Linked DNA regions of Homo sapiens. The protein of the gene in region 1 interacts with the protein of each later gene in a pairwise test. Each region holds a gene or a part of one and is shown on either strand. Other genes may lie near its edges.

Evidence for each region.
Region 2: the proteins of SLN (region 1) and TMEM79 interact in binary tests that used the Homo sapiens proteins (3 or more experiments, as listed by UniProt).
Region 3: the proteins of SLN (region 1) and PTPN11 interact in a two-hybrid assay, tested with the Homo sapiens proteins (one large-scale study listed by BioGRID and IntAct).
Region 4: the proteins of SLN (region 1) and KASH5 interact in binary tests that used the Homo sapiens proteins (3 or more experiments, as listed by UniProt).

The regions. Positions count from the first base shown.
Region 1 is NC_000011.10:107,709,174-107,713,360, forward strand, and holds the start of SLN (sarcolipin), read right to left. Parts: upstream 2,884-4,187; 5' UTR 2,790-2,883; intron 1-2,789. UniProt on the Homo sapiens protein: Reversibly inhibits the activity of ATP2A1/SERCA1 and ATP2A2/SERCA2 in sarcoplasmic reticulum by decreasing the apparent affinity of the ATPase for Ca(2+). Also inhibits the activity of ATP2A3/SERCA3.
Region 2 is NC_000001.11:156,287,325-156,290,133, forward strand, and holds part of TMEM79 (transmembrane protein 79), read left to right. Parts: intron 1-2,809.
Region 3 is NC_000012.12:112,453,447-112,457,039, reverse strand, and holds part of PTPN11 (tyrosine-protein phosphatase non-receptor type 11), read right to left. Parts: intron 2,477-3,593; coding exon 2,360-2,476; intron 1,091-2,359; coding exon 977-1,090; intron 1-976. UniProt on the Homo sapiens protein: Acts downstream of various receptor and cytoplasmic protein tyrosine kinases to participate in the signal transduction from the cell surface to the nucleus. Positively regulates MAPK signal transduction pathway. Dephosphorylates GAB1, ARHGAP35 and EGFR.
Region 4 is NC_000019.10:49,401,701-49,405,293, reverse strand, and holds part of KASH5 (protein KASH5), read right to left. Parts: intron 1-3,593. UniProt on the Homo sapiens protein: As a component of the LINC (LInker of Nucleoskeleton and Cytoskeleton) complex, involved in the connection between the nuclear lamina and the cytoskeleton.

The DNA.
Region 1 (4,187 bases):
AACATGTGCAATGAAGTCATCAAACTATTGTCTTCAGTGAGATGGTGTAAATTGCACATTATTTATGCAGCCTAAATGAAATTAAAGATTTATATATTTTAGATAATTCGATATCTATGTTTTAGACATTTAGGACCAAAGTCTACTGTAGAGTGAAAGTTTAGGGAGAAAGGGTATTTTGTGTGTTTGCTAAAGGTGAGAGTTCAAGAGGCTGAAAGGGTTGTTAGCAAGCTTTTGGTCTGAGTGGTATTTTTAAACTATCTAGCATGACTGAATTATTAATTGTAATTACTGTATTGATTATATTATCAATGGACCAAATTGTTAATTGCATAAATGCCAACTGAATGATCATTTTTCATATTGTGTAATTGGCATAACATACAGGTTCAGCCAGGCATGGCAGTCGGTACCTGTAGTCCTAGCTAATTGGGAAGCTGAGGTGGGAGGATCCCTTGAGCCTAGGAGTTTAAGACCAGCTTAGGCAACATAATGAGACCCTGTCTCAAAAAAAAATACAAGTTCAAATCAGATGGTGCCAACCAGTAGATATATAGCCAAATGATGACAGATTTATATTTCATCTCCCTTTTAATTATTATCCATCTTTTAGACCTCAGCATGAAGGAAATAGTAAATTGCCAATGAAAACCATTACAAATGGCTGGGCGTGGTGGCTCATGCCTCTAATCCCAGCCCTTTGGGAGGCTGGAGTGGGAGGATCACTTGAGCCTAGGAGTTCAAGACCAGCCTGGATAACACAGCAAGACCCTGTCTCTCCAAGAAAATAAAAAGGGGAAAAAATAGAAAATCTTTACAAAGATTTGCATGGAGGAGAAAGTAAACAGAATAAAATGAATGGATCAAGGAAAAAGGATTTATGAGAATGTACAAAAGAGCAGAGGAGAACAGAACGGTAATGAGTCTTGCCAAGGTGCCTGGAGGCAAAGGAATGAGAAACGAAGACAGACTCTTTCTTATAAACTTATCAATGAAATAAAACCATAGTCCAAATGTCCATCTATTTGGGTAAGTTCTCAAGAAATGCAGAGATAAGCAGAAAATATGAAGCCTGGCTTATAATGGTCAAAACAATTCAAGGAGAGCAAAACAACGGTCCCACCAAATCTGCCTATTAAATTAAGCTGTTAAGTCATGGGAATCATGGATAGTGATCCAACAGGATATACTCAGAAAATGAGAAAAATACTATTGAAAGCTGTTCCACAGCTCTGTTTGTGTTACCTTCGCAACAACTCAGGCAAGTGTTACTGCAGTTTTTATCTTTCTCAAGATTACAGCTGAGAAACTGACTTTTAGAGAGAGGAGATTAAGATGTTTGTGTAATGACAGATAACAAGTTAGAGGCAAAGCTAGAATTAGCAGACTGGAACTAGTTACTAGAATTCCTAGGAGTTATGACACAAGTGAATTGTCACTGCAATTAACTGGCCTGGCTAAACAAAGTTAGCATAAATTTTCAACCACTTTGGAAAACAATTTAGCTTTCTTAGAATTAATGTTGAAAATGTTCATTCTCTAATATCTGGCATTTCACTTCTACCTTAAGACAGTCAAGGACGTGCGTGCCAGGTTACATAAATAAAGAGTTCACAGCAATATTATCACAATAACTCCAAACTGGAAACAACTCAAATGTTTATCAACAGCAGAATGGATGATAAATTGTGGTATAGTTATACATTTGAATTTCATAAAGCAAAGAAAATATATGAACTATAGCTACACAGAAAATGGGTAGATCTCACAAATATAATTGTTGGGTGAAAGAAGAATTTACAAAAGAAACAGAGAATATGACTCCATTTATATGATGTCAAAAATAGGGAGGTTAATCATATTGTTTAGGCATGCAGACATAGATGGTCAAATTATAAAGAATAACAGGGACAAGAGGATCCCAACATCTTGGGGCAGAATGGGGGTTGATCAAGAATGGGCTTCTGGGTGCTGGCAATGATCTGTTTCTTGACCTGGATGATAATTATAGAAGTGTTGCCTTTCAGTTATTGTTTAAACTGTGTATGTTTATGCACTCTTAACTTTTTTTTTTTCAGTCATTTCTGAATTAGCAGGCTACCCATCACACTTCTTTCTTTCTTGGGATTTACCTCTTACTACTTCTTGCACTTTAATGGTGACCTTGAATATTTGTTGTTTTATGTGATTTTAGATGAATAAAACATGAAGAGTTAAGGTGAGAATTTCTAGTGAATTCAATTCAATCAACACATATGCTAACTGTAAGGTGTGGTGTGAACATTCCTTTCACACACATTTATACACTTTAGGAAGAATGAACCAGTTAGGCAGAAATTCAGATCAGCCAAGTTCCATTTTTCTGCTTTTAACCAATAAAGACACTTTGGGTTTCATTTTAAACATTCCCTGAAGTCAAGGTCATGCCATATGATCCAGTGATTGCAAATGGATGAACTAAAACCCAAAAAGCTCTGAATAAATTGTGCAGGAAGTTTGACATTGGCTTTCTTTGAATGGAGACTTAGAGAAGATAGAAAAAAGACCATCTTCCATAATACAAGAAAGAAAAAAAATTTTTTTTTACTAGGAAGGGAGAAAATGCATACCCTTAGGAGAAAAAAAAAGGAAAACAGAAAGCAATAGTACTCACTTTATATCTTAAGGCATGCTGTATCCAAGGGGCATTGCCTATTTCATTAAGAAATGCAAACATTCCTCTGCCTTTCTCATTTGCAGCTTGTACACACACACACACCGTATGCTAAGCATAAAAATCCTGCAGTTACCTGAAGAGGATCAAAGACACACCCTGGCTATGGCAGGTTTCTCCTCGCTGTCTCCAACTTGAGCTCCAACTCCTTCTCCCCTCCCAGGCTGTCTGGACTCCTGGACTCTGGGCAGCGCCTAAAGTAGTCCGTGGAAGCTGGCAATCACTGTGATGTCACTGATGAAACATCTCAAAGGAACACCCTCCGAAGGTTCGAGGCTATTTGTGTTCGGGGGACATGGAAATATGTTGACTAAGACTTTGTTCCTTTGGCTGCCAATTTGCCACCACCAGGATTTAAAAACCTTCTGTTTCCAGTTGACTTTTAGTGCAATTGATGTGGGTTTTAAATGTGTCTTTTACATCTTCATGAATAACTTTAACATGTCTTTAAAACATCATAAACCAAGAATGATAGACTAATTTTAACCAATCGATGCTGCATTTGACTGCTCTCCCTAGTCAGCCTGTGAGGTGTAAAAATGTGACTTCATTTTACCACCCATATCTTTAGTTATTTGAAATGTGAAGAGTTTGCTGCCTTACACCCACACATATGCACACCCATACACACACACACACACTCCAGAATTCAATAGGCATCTTTAGCTCTTTCAAAACTGACTTTAGTCCAAGCAGTGAAAGCTATCCCCTCCGTCACCTGCTCCACGTAACTTTCCAGCTAAGCTGTGCATTGCAAGTTTACACGTGGATCTACAGTTTCATCTGAAACAGCCGAGGAAGTCATGGTTTGTATATCTCTGGCAATAAATTAATAGAGCAGTAAACTCACACAGTTCAACTCAGTTATTTGGATAGATTGGGAGTGGAAGGAGAACTGGGTAAAATTAGTGAAAAATGTGAATTATAGAATATATCTGAAAGAAAGAAAAGTATTATATAACTTTCTAATATGAACACTAACTAAAATTAGACTAAGATGAGTTTGTAACCAATGTATCACATGTTTGGAGCCCCTGAAGTGTTAAATTAGACTTGAAAGCAGATCAATTAAGTACTTTAAACATGACCCTAGCAATTGTGTTTGCTCAGCAGATCCTTTCTTTATAGATAATAGAGGAAATCTCCCCCTCTGAATTCCCAATTAGGGTCAATCAAAATAATGCATTCCCAAAAGGCATAAACAAACAAAATTCTCTATGCAGTTATGCTCATAGTCAAACCTTTCCCTCCATTCCTCATACCCCAGAGACATTACCAAAACAAGACTTTCCATTTCATTTCCTCATTTTAACATAAGCTTAGCAACGGGTAATCTTAATACAACATTCTGTCACCACTTGTCTTGTGAAAAGAGCGCTTGCTGAAGTGACAGAGAGTGTATAATAATTATAGTGCAACCGAACATTGGCAGTTATCTGTTGCCATCTGGCAAACTCCTTGAATGTAATCAGAG
Region 2 (2,809 bases), on another chromosome or scaffold:
AGAATCGCTTGAACCTGGGAGGCGGAGGTTGCAGTGAGCCAAGATCGCGCCATTGCACTCCAGCCTGGGTGACAGAGTGAGACTCCGTCTCAAACAAATAAATAAATAATTAAAATTAAAAAAATATAGAGATGAGGTCTCAAGGTTGGGGGGCCTGGTTGAGGGTACTGTCCTTCTCTTCCTGTTTGTCAATGAGGGGATGGCCCTGGTAGAGGGTACTGTCCTTTTCTTCATACAAACCAAGGATGTGTGAGCTCTCCTCGCAGCCTTCTTACTCTCCACTTTTTTTTTTTTTTTTTTTTTTTTTGAGACAGTGTTTCACTCTTGTTGCCCAGGCTGGAGAGTACAATGGCAGGATCTCAGCTCACTACAATCTCCACCTACTGGGTTCAAGCGATTCTCCTGCCTCAGCCTCCCGCGTAGCTGGGATTACAGGCGCCCACCACCAGGCCCAGCTAACTTTTTGTATTTTTAGTAGAGATAGGGTTTCACCATGTTGGCCAGGCAGTTCTTGAACCCCTAACCTCAGGTGATCTGCCCGCCTCAGCCTCCCAAAGTACTGGGATTACAGGCGTGAGCCACTGCGCCTGGCCCTTACTCTCCTTTCATTCAGACTTTGCCATCACCTAAAATCCTTAGGGGTACTTTGGGAGGCGGAGGCGGGCAGATCATGAGGTCAGGAGATTGAGACCATCCTGGCTAACACGGTGAAACCCCGTCTCTATTAAAAATACAAAAAAATTAGCCGGGTGCGGTGGCGAGCGCCTACAGTCCCAACTACTCGGGAGGCTGAGGCAGGAGAATGGCGTGAACCCGGGAGCCGAGATAGCGCCACTGCAGTCTGGCCTGGGTGAAAGAGTGAGACTCCGTCTCAAAAAAAAAAAAAAAAAAATCCTTAGGGGTATTTTCACATGAACTACTGTTAATCTAGAAGGCACCTTTGAATTTCTTAACCCAAATGCAGGTCTTTTCTTTCCATTTTCCCTAATACATATGCTCTTGTTACTTTTTTTTTCTTTTTTTTTTTTTGAGATGGTGTCTTACTCTGTTACCCAGGCTGGAGTGCAGTGGCGCAATCTTGGCTCACTACAACTTCTGTCTCCAGGCTCAAGCAGTTTTCCTGCCTCAGCCCCCCGAGTAGCTGAGATTACAGGTGTGAGCCACCATGCCCAGCTAATTTTTTTTGTATTTTTAGTAGAGACAGGGTTTCAACATGTTGGCCAGGCTGGTCTCGAACTTCTGACCTCAGATAATCCACCCATCTTGGCCACCCAAAGTGCTGGGATTACAGGCGTGAGCCACCACACCTGGCCTGCTCTTGTTACTTTTGATACAGGATTCCAGGTAGCTCGCTAAAATAAAATATTCTTCCTATTGAGCTAAAATTAGTCTTCCTGTCACTTCTGATTGTGGTCCAGCAGTCAGTTGTCCCACCAGCCTCCTGACCATCATGCAGCCTTGCATTTTCTCCCAATAGGTTTTCCCAAAATAAATATGTTCCTGCTCATGTAACTTAGCCTGCCATCTTAAACTCCTGGGGAATACTGGTTTCAGATAGAAGTTGGCTTAAGCAGTAAAAATCATCAGGGAGCTAAAGGAAGACTCAGTGATTGTCTGGTCCAGGCTTCCCATTTTACAAAGGGAAAATCACAACAGATTAGGGGAAGAGAGTTGCTCAGGTCAGTCGGCAATAGTGGCAGGACTAGAATCCAGGTCCTTTTCCTCTCTTATCCAGGGTCCTTTCTTCTTTACCATGGACAAGTTCATTAAGCAGTTTGTGCCTCAGTTTCATCATCTGTAAAATGAGGTCGTTATGAGGATTAAATGAGTTAATTCATGTAGAGTACTTAAAACAATCTAGTACTTGGTGCCAGGCGTGGTGGCTCACACCTGTAATCCCAGCACTTTGGGAGGCCAAGGCAGGTGGATCATGAGGTCAGGAGATCGAGACCATCCTGGCTAACACGGTAAAACCCCATCTCTAATAAAAATACAAAAAATTAGCCGGGTGTGGTGATGGGCGCCTGTAATCCCAGCACTTTGGGAGGCCAAGGCGGGTGGATCACCAGGTCAGGAGATCGAGACCATCCTGGCTAACACGGTGAAACCACGTCTCTACTAAAAATAAAAATAAAAAATTAGCCGGGCATGGTGGTGGGTACCTGTAGTCCCAGCTACTCAGGAGGCTGAGGCAGGAGAATGGCGTGAACCTGGGAGGCGGAGCTTGCAGTGAGCCGAGATTGGGCCACTGCACTCCAGCCTGGGCGACAGAGCGAGACTCTGTCTCAAAAAATAACAAGAACAACAAAAAAACAATCTGGTACTTGGTTCATTATACTATGCTGCTTCCTAGTGCAGAAGAGAAGCAGCAGTTACTCTTCCCTCCCTTTCACAGGTAAAAAAGAATAGAGGCACATGAATCATGTAATAAGTGGTCCTTCATATATTAAGAAGTGATCCTTCATATATTAAGAGGAAGTTGCTCTCCCCTCCCTCCATTGAGGGGTGTGTATTGAACATATCTTCCACGAAATCTGTGGCTGACCCATCCTCTGGGCTTCAAGCCCTCCTAGAGGTGGCTTCTTTGCTCTCCTCTTTACCTCTGCCCCTCAAATTGGCAGAAGGGAAGGTAATGAACAGGTTTGGGTTCATATCATGGCTTTGCTATTTCCCAGATGTGTGATCTTGGACCAGTCTTACTTAACCCTTGGAATCTTAGTTTCTTCATCTGCAAGAGGATAAATACAATGGAACACACTGCAGCTATAAAAGAATGAGAAAACCATTTTTATATTGATATAAAATGATC
Region 3 (3,593 bases), on another chromosome or scaffold:
TGGGTTAATGTGTGCAGCAAACCATGATGGCACATGTATACCTATGTACAAACCTGCACGTTCTGCACATATATCCCAGAACTTAAAGTATAATCAACAAAAATAATTTAAAAAAAAAAGAAATCAGTTCACTTAACTTACCAGAGTTATCAATTTGAACTCTGAAATTAAAGCCACCACATTTGGCACGTCAAAGCTGGAGGATCACTTGAGCCCAAGAGTTCAAGACCAGCCTGGGCAACACTGCAAAACCCCATCTCTACAAAAAAATACAAAAATTAGATGGGCATGGTATCGTGTGCCTGTAGTCCCAGCTACTCGGGAAGCTTAAGTAGGAGGATCACTTGAGCCCAAGAGTTCAAGACCAGCCTGGGCAACACTGCAAAACCTCATCTCTACCAAAAATACAAAAATTAGCCAGGCATAGGGGCATGTGCCTGTAGTCCCAGCTACTCAGTAGGCTGAGATGGGAAGATCACTTGAGCCCAGGGAGGACGGGGCTGCAGTAAACCGAGATCACGCCACTACACTCCAGCTTCGGCGACAGAGCGAGACCCTGTCTCAAAAAAAAAAAAAAAAAAGCCACCACAAGGTGTTTCTCTTTTACTCATACTCATTTGCTGCACTAAGGCTATAGATTGTTTCTAAAGACCCCAGTGCATGCTGGAAATCTTTCGAAGAAATTAGATCCTTTTGTTTCTCTGAGATTTTGCCACCAGTCCAAACCAAAAGAGCCAAATGGAGCGGCTAGCACATCCATTGACTACTCACTGCCAACTCCCTTCCCTCAGAACACAATGCTCTTCTGTTTCGAAGAAGCCCTCTCAGCAACTTGCTCCGTGTCAATCAATGGCCGAATTAAAAAAGGACGTCAGTTTCAAGTCTCTCAGGTCCAATTCCAAACACAAGAGCAACTTCTCCTCCACTAAAAATAGGATATAACAACTCACGTAAAAACAGTTTTTTAATAACTTACCTCAAATTCTTCCCAAAAGCCTTGTTTGACTTTATCTGTGGTCTCAGCTAATTTGCTTAGTTCTCGAACTCTGCTTTCTATTTCAGCAGCATTTATACGAGTCGTGTTAAGGGGCTGATCGAGTACAGCAGTTGATGTAAAATAAAGAAAATATTACAGAAAACGGTGTTAATGCAAAAAAAAAAAAAAAAACATGTCTATGTTGATATTCATAAAGGCACGGACAGAGGGTTCATAGGACCCTGTAATTCACAATAAAAGTTTTCAAATCGTTTCACCGTGTTTTCTGTTCAGCCAGAAAATGTATCTTTCTTCAGTCTTCACATACACTTTACTCTGCTGATATAAATTCAAGCCTATTTTTCTTTATGAATAGACCACATTATTTAGAGAGATTATATCATTTTCCACTATCATAAAGGTGAAATTTGAAATAGCAACAATGCCAAAGTGAATAAGTGAGGTTACCTAAAGGTAACCAGAAGTGGATCTATAATGAAAACTTGCTTTAAAACTCTGTACAGCCTTAGGCCAGATGCAGTGGCTCATGCCTATAATCCCAGCACTTTGAGAGGCTGAGGCAGGCAGATCACTTGAGGTCAGGAGTTCAAGACCAGCCTGGCTAACATGGTGAAACCCCATCTCTACTAAAAATACAAAAATTAGCTGGGTGTAGTGGCACCACCTATAATCCCAGCTACTCAGGAGGCTGAGGCAGGAGAAGCTCTTGAACCCGGGACGCAGAGGTTGCAGTGAGCCAAGAACACGCCACTGCACTCCAGCCTGGGCGACAGAGCAAAACTCCATCTCAAAAAAAAAAAAAAAAAAAAAGAACCTCTGTAATGCCTTTTACAGATAAATATGGGAATAATATAAATCTGGAATATGTTTCCAAGTACTATAGCGGCAGTCAGTGAGTGGAATCATAATAAGAAAAGATTTAGGGCCGGGCGTGGTAGCTCACGCCTGTAATCCCAAAACTTCGGGAGGCCAAGGCGGGCAGAAAACCTGAGGTCGGGAATTCAAGACCAGCCAGGCCAACATGGTGAAACCCCATCTCTATTAAAAACACAAAAACTAGCCGGGCATGGTGGTGGGCACCTGTAGTCCCAGCTACTCAGGAGGCTGAGGCAGGAGAATCGCTTGAACCCAGGAAGCAGAGGTTGTAGTGAGCCAAGATTGCAACACTGTACTCCAGACTGGGTGACAGAGTAAGACTGTCTCAAAAAAAAAAAAAAAAAAAAAGATTTGATAGTTGAAGCTGCAATGGGTACATGGAGGCTGATGATACTATTCTGTCTACCTCTGTATGTTTGCAAAATTCTCTATTAGGATTTGTTTTAAGTTTTTAAGGAGAAAGCTTGAGCTTTCCAATCTGCTCACCTGCTTGAGTTGTAGTACTGTACCCAATGTTTCCACCATAGGATTCTTCTTATAATGTTCCACAAGATCTGTCAAAGAATCAAACCGTTCTCCTCCACCAACGTCGTATTTCAGTTCCTTTCAAGATAAACACATGACATTTATTATTTGTTACCTTTATGTTACATTAGTGTTTTCAAGCACTCTCATGTTCACTGCAGCATTATTCACAATAGCTAGTATATAGAGACAACTTAAATGTCCATCAAAAGACAGATAATAGGCTGGGTGCAGTGGCTCACGCCAGTAATTCCAGCACTTTGGGAGGCCAAGGCGGGCAGATCATTTGAGGTCAGGAGTTCGAGACCAGCCTGGCCAACATGGTAAAACCCCATATCCACTAAAAATACAAAAATTAGCCAGGCTTGGTGGTGGACACCTGTAATCCCTGCTACTCAGGAGGGTGAGGCACGAGAATCACTTGAGCCCAAGAGGCAGAGGTTGCAGTGAGCCAACTGTGCTTCAGCCTGGGAGACAGAGGGAGACTCTGTCTCAAAAAAAAGATAAATAATAAAAATGTGGTGTGTGTATACAAATATACTAAAAGTGTAAATATACTCAATATACTCAAGTATGATAAGTATAATAATATATTAAATATGCTAATATACTAATACAGTAACTATACTAATATATTAAGTATAATAAAAGCATAGACGAACTTGACTAAGTAAGCAAAGAAAATCTGACTTTGGATCAGGCACAGTAGTTCACATCTGTAATCCTAACACTTTGAGAGGTTGAAGGAGGCAGGCCTCTTGAGCACTAGTTCAAGACCACACTGGGCAATGCGGCAAAACACCATCTCCACAAAAAATACAAACACTAGCTGGGCATGGTGGCACACACCTGTAGTCCCAGCTACTCAAGAGGCTGAGGGAAGATCAACTGAGCCCAGGGAGGTTGCACTCCAGCCTGCGTGACAGAGCAAGACCCAGTCTCAAATGAATAAACAAATGAATATTAAAAAAACAAAAACAAAAAAAAAAAAAAAACAGAAAATCTGACTTTGAATGTAATGGTGTTTGTCCTCTTCCAGCAGAAAAATCACCCAAAGATTTGGGTCACCAGACCCAACGTGGTGAAACCCCATCTGTAGGTGATAGAGCAAGACCCTGTCTCAAATAAATAAATAAATAAATAAATAAATAAAAGACAATCTGACTTTGAATGTAATGGTGTCTGTCTTCTGTCA
Region 4 (3,593 bases), on another chromosome or scaffold:
GTAGAGACGGGGTTTCACCACGCTGGCCAGGGTGGTCTTGACCTTCTGACCTCAGGTAATCCACCCTTCTTGGTCTCCCAAAGTGCTGGGATTACAGGGGTGAGCCACTGCACCGGGCCTGTGCTCCTTTTTCATTTTGGTTGTCTCAGAGATTTCTTTACATTTACTTTGATTGAGGGTCCAAACAAGGTCCATCATTGCTTTTGGTTGAAATGTCTTACTTCTTTTAATCTGACAGTAATTTCTGCCCCCTCCACCCCGACCCTGGTACTCTTCAGGCCCTCATTCTGTGGAAGAAAGCAGGTCCCTTGTCCTGTAGGATTGGTGCGTTCAGATTAGGCTGATTGCGCTCTTGTTCCCTGTGGTTATGTTCACCACTTTCCTCTATCATTATTTCTTATAAACTGGTAGGTAGATCCAGGGCCTTGTCCAGACTGTTGTTCAATTTCTTGGCAAGATTGGGTGGTGCTATACATATCAAATTGTGCCATTCAGGAGTAATGCCAAGTCTGGTTGCCCTATTAATAGTATAATCATTTCCAATTTTATAAAGGAGTAGAGAGGCTAAGAGACTTGGCAAGGTCACATGGTAAATGGACTCAAACCTAAATCTGTGTGATTCCAAATTCTGTTTATAATCCTCAGACTCTCATGTGAGCCAGACACAGCCCTGGGTGAGAATGGGACACAAAGGGAATTAGGCTCTAGAGGTGGCGATGGATGCAGAAGCGGGTAACAATGCACGAGGTGGGCTCTGGTGAGGCCTACAGCCTGGGTACCATGGGAGCACTAACAGGCTTCCTGAGGAGGCGTTGCTGAGTCTTCAAGGCTGAGGGCAGTTAGCTGGGAAAACAATAGGCCGGAGAGGGCAGCCCATGCCAGCCATGAAATGGGACCTGAACATAAAATGGCCCAGATTCCAGTCTAAAGTTTAGGGGCACCAAAAACCTATCAAGTTGCACAGGGTTTCAAAGCGAGGTGGTCACTGGGGAAATGCACTTTGGGGCATGGAGGCAGTCCAGAGTTCCCTTTCACCACGCCCCTCCTCTTGGCACTCCAGGGGATACACCAAGGCCAGCCTCTCCCTCCCTCCAGCCAGCTCCAAGTCCTCCATCAGCTGCTCTCCCTCTGTCTCAGTGGGCCTGGGCTGCCAGGTGAAGGGCAGAGGAAGGACGGGAAAGGAGTGCTGTCTCAACATCTGTCCACCTGGTAGGGATTTGCAGGCCAGATCCTGGGCCACTCGGCAGGGAACCTGGTTACTCAGCTGCTCCTGCCTCCTTCTGCAGTAACCTGAGACAGCTCTGTAGGTTCTCCACAGGAAGGCTGCCTGGATCTTCAGTGTCTGAGTGTCTTGTTACTCCAGCATTATTCTACTGTAACTTGAGAACTCAATCTATAGATGCTCTGTAGGCAGCTGTGTGGAGGGGGAAGGTAGAGGGGAGGGAACCAAGAATAGCTCCAGTTTATCGAGGGCCGAGGGTGTCCCAGATGCTGCTCAAGGCACTCAACCTGGCAGCAGGCCTTCCTGGTGGGGAGGAGGTAGAGATGAGACTGCTGGTTGCTATTTACCCTGCTTACTCCTTCTGCTTTTGTCGAGGGATCTACTCTCTCTGTCTGAGGGCAGATGGGTCCCAGCCCCAGCCATGGGAGTGAGTCAAGGTGGAAATCTTGGCAGATGCAGGAAGCTCAGCTGGTTAGCTAAGCCAGCAGCCATTCTCACCCCTTCTCACTTGTTCACCTGCCACTCTAGAGGCTGAAAAAGGTCACATATTCTCCTGGGCTCCTTTGCAGCTGGGGGCGTTATGTCAGCCAGTTCTGGCCAGTGAGATGTAAGAGCTGCTGGGGGTGGGGTGAGAGGCTTCTGATGAAAGGAGCCACGAGAGGGGCATTTCCTGGCTGCCCCCCCCCTTTTTTTTTATTTTGAGACAGAGTCTTGCTCTGTCGCCCAAGCTGAGTGCAGTGGCACAATCTCGGCTCACTGCAAGCTCCGCCTCCTGGGTTCACGACATTCTCCTGCCTCAGCCTCCAGAGTAGCTGGGACTATAGCGGCCCGCCGCCATGCCCAACTAATTATTTATTTATTTATTTTTTGTATTTTTAGTAGAGACGGGGGTTTCACCATGTTAGCCAGGATAGTCTCGATCTCCTGACCTTGTGATCTGCCCGCCTCGGCCTCCCACAGTGCTGGGATTACAGGTGTGAGCCACCGCGCCCAGCCTCATGGCTCCCCTTTGCCCCACGTTTTCCTACTTTGAATGAGAACATGAGATTGAAGCTGTTGCAGTCATCTGCAATAATGAGGCCACAGGCAGCCAGGGAGCCACCAAACCTCCCAGAGACCACCTTCTTCCCAGAGACCACCTTCTTCCCAGAGACCACCTTCTTCTAAACCTCTGGTTAAGGAAATGAATGTCGTGTAGATTGAAGTCATCATTTCTTTGTTCTCTTCCCTGGAGCGTTCTGGACCCATTAGTGGCCATATTATCCATGTAGTCTGGTTATAATGGCTGAATGGCAATGAACTGTAAGGCAGGAAGTTCTGCCAGGGGGCTTCAGGGAAAGTTTTTCATTTTTAAAAATTTTTTTTGAGACAGAGTCTCGCTCTGTCACCCAGGCTAGAATGCGGTGGCACAATCTCAGCTCGCTGCAACCTCTGCCTCCTGGGTTCAAGTGATTCTCCTGCCTCAGCCTCTCAAGTAGCTGGGATTACAGACGCCTGCCACCACGCCTGGCTAATTTTTATATTTTTAGTAGAGGTGGGGTTTCACCATGTTGGTCAGGCTGGTTTCGAACTCCTGACCTCAAATGATCCACCCATCTCGGCCTCCCAAGATGCTGGGATTACAAGCGTGAGCCACTGTGCCTGGCCTTTCATTCTTTTATTTACTTTTTTTGTTTTTTTTTGTTTTATAGAGACGGGCTCTCACTATGTTGCCTAGGTTGGTCTCGAACTCCTGGCCTAGGCAATCTTGCTTTGGCCTCCCAAAGTGTTGGGATTACAGGTGTGAGCCACCATGCCCAGCCGGAAAGTTTTTCTTTTCCTTTTTTTTTTGAGACTGAGTCTTGCTCTGTCGCCCAGACTGGAGTACACTGGTACCATCTTGGCTCACTGCAACCTCTGCCTCCTGGGTTCAAGCGATTCTCCTGCCTCAGCCTCCCGAGTAGCTGGGATTACAGGTGTGTGCCACCACACCCGGCTGATTTTTTTATTTTTAGTAGAGATGGGGCTTCACCGTGTTGGCCAGGCTGGTCTCGAACTCCTGATCTCAGGTGATCCACCCACCTCGGCCTCCCAAAGTGCTGGGATTACAGGCGTGAGCCACTGCGCCTGGCAACTTTTTCATTCTTAAAAAGGGATGTTCTGAAAGAAACTGTCACATCCTGCTGCATTCCATGTCTCACATGGTACAGCCATCCTGCTGTGAGATTCCCATTGCCCCAAGGGGGTGAGTTTTCATGGAAGAGCCAGAAAATAGCAGAAAGATTTTGGATTTCAGTGTAAAAAACACTGCACATGTAGGACAAAGATATTTTTTGGGAATACATGATCTGTCTGGACTAGGCAGAGATCCTTAGAGCTGGGGGAGGAATGC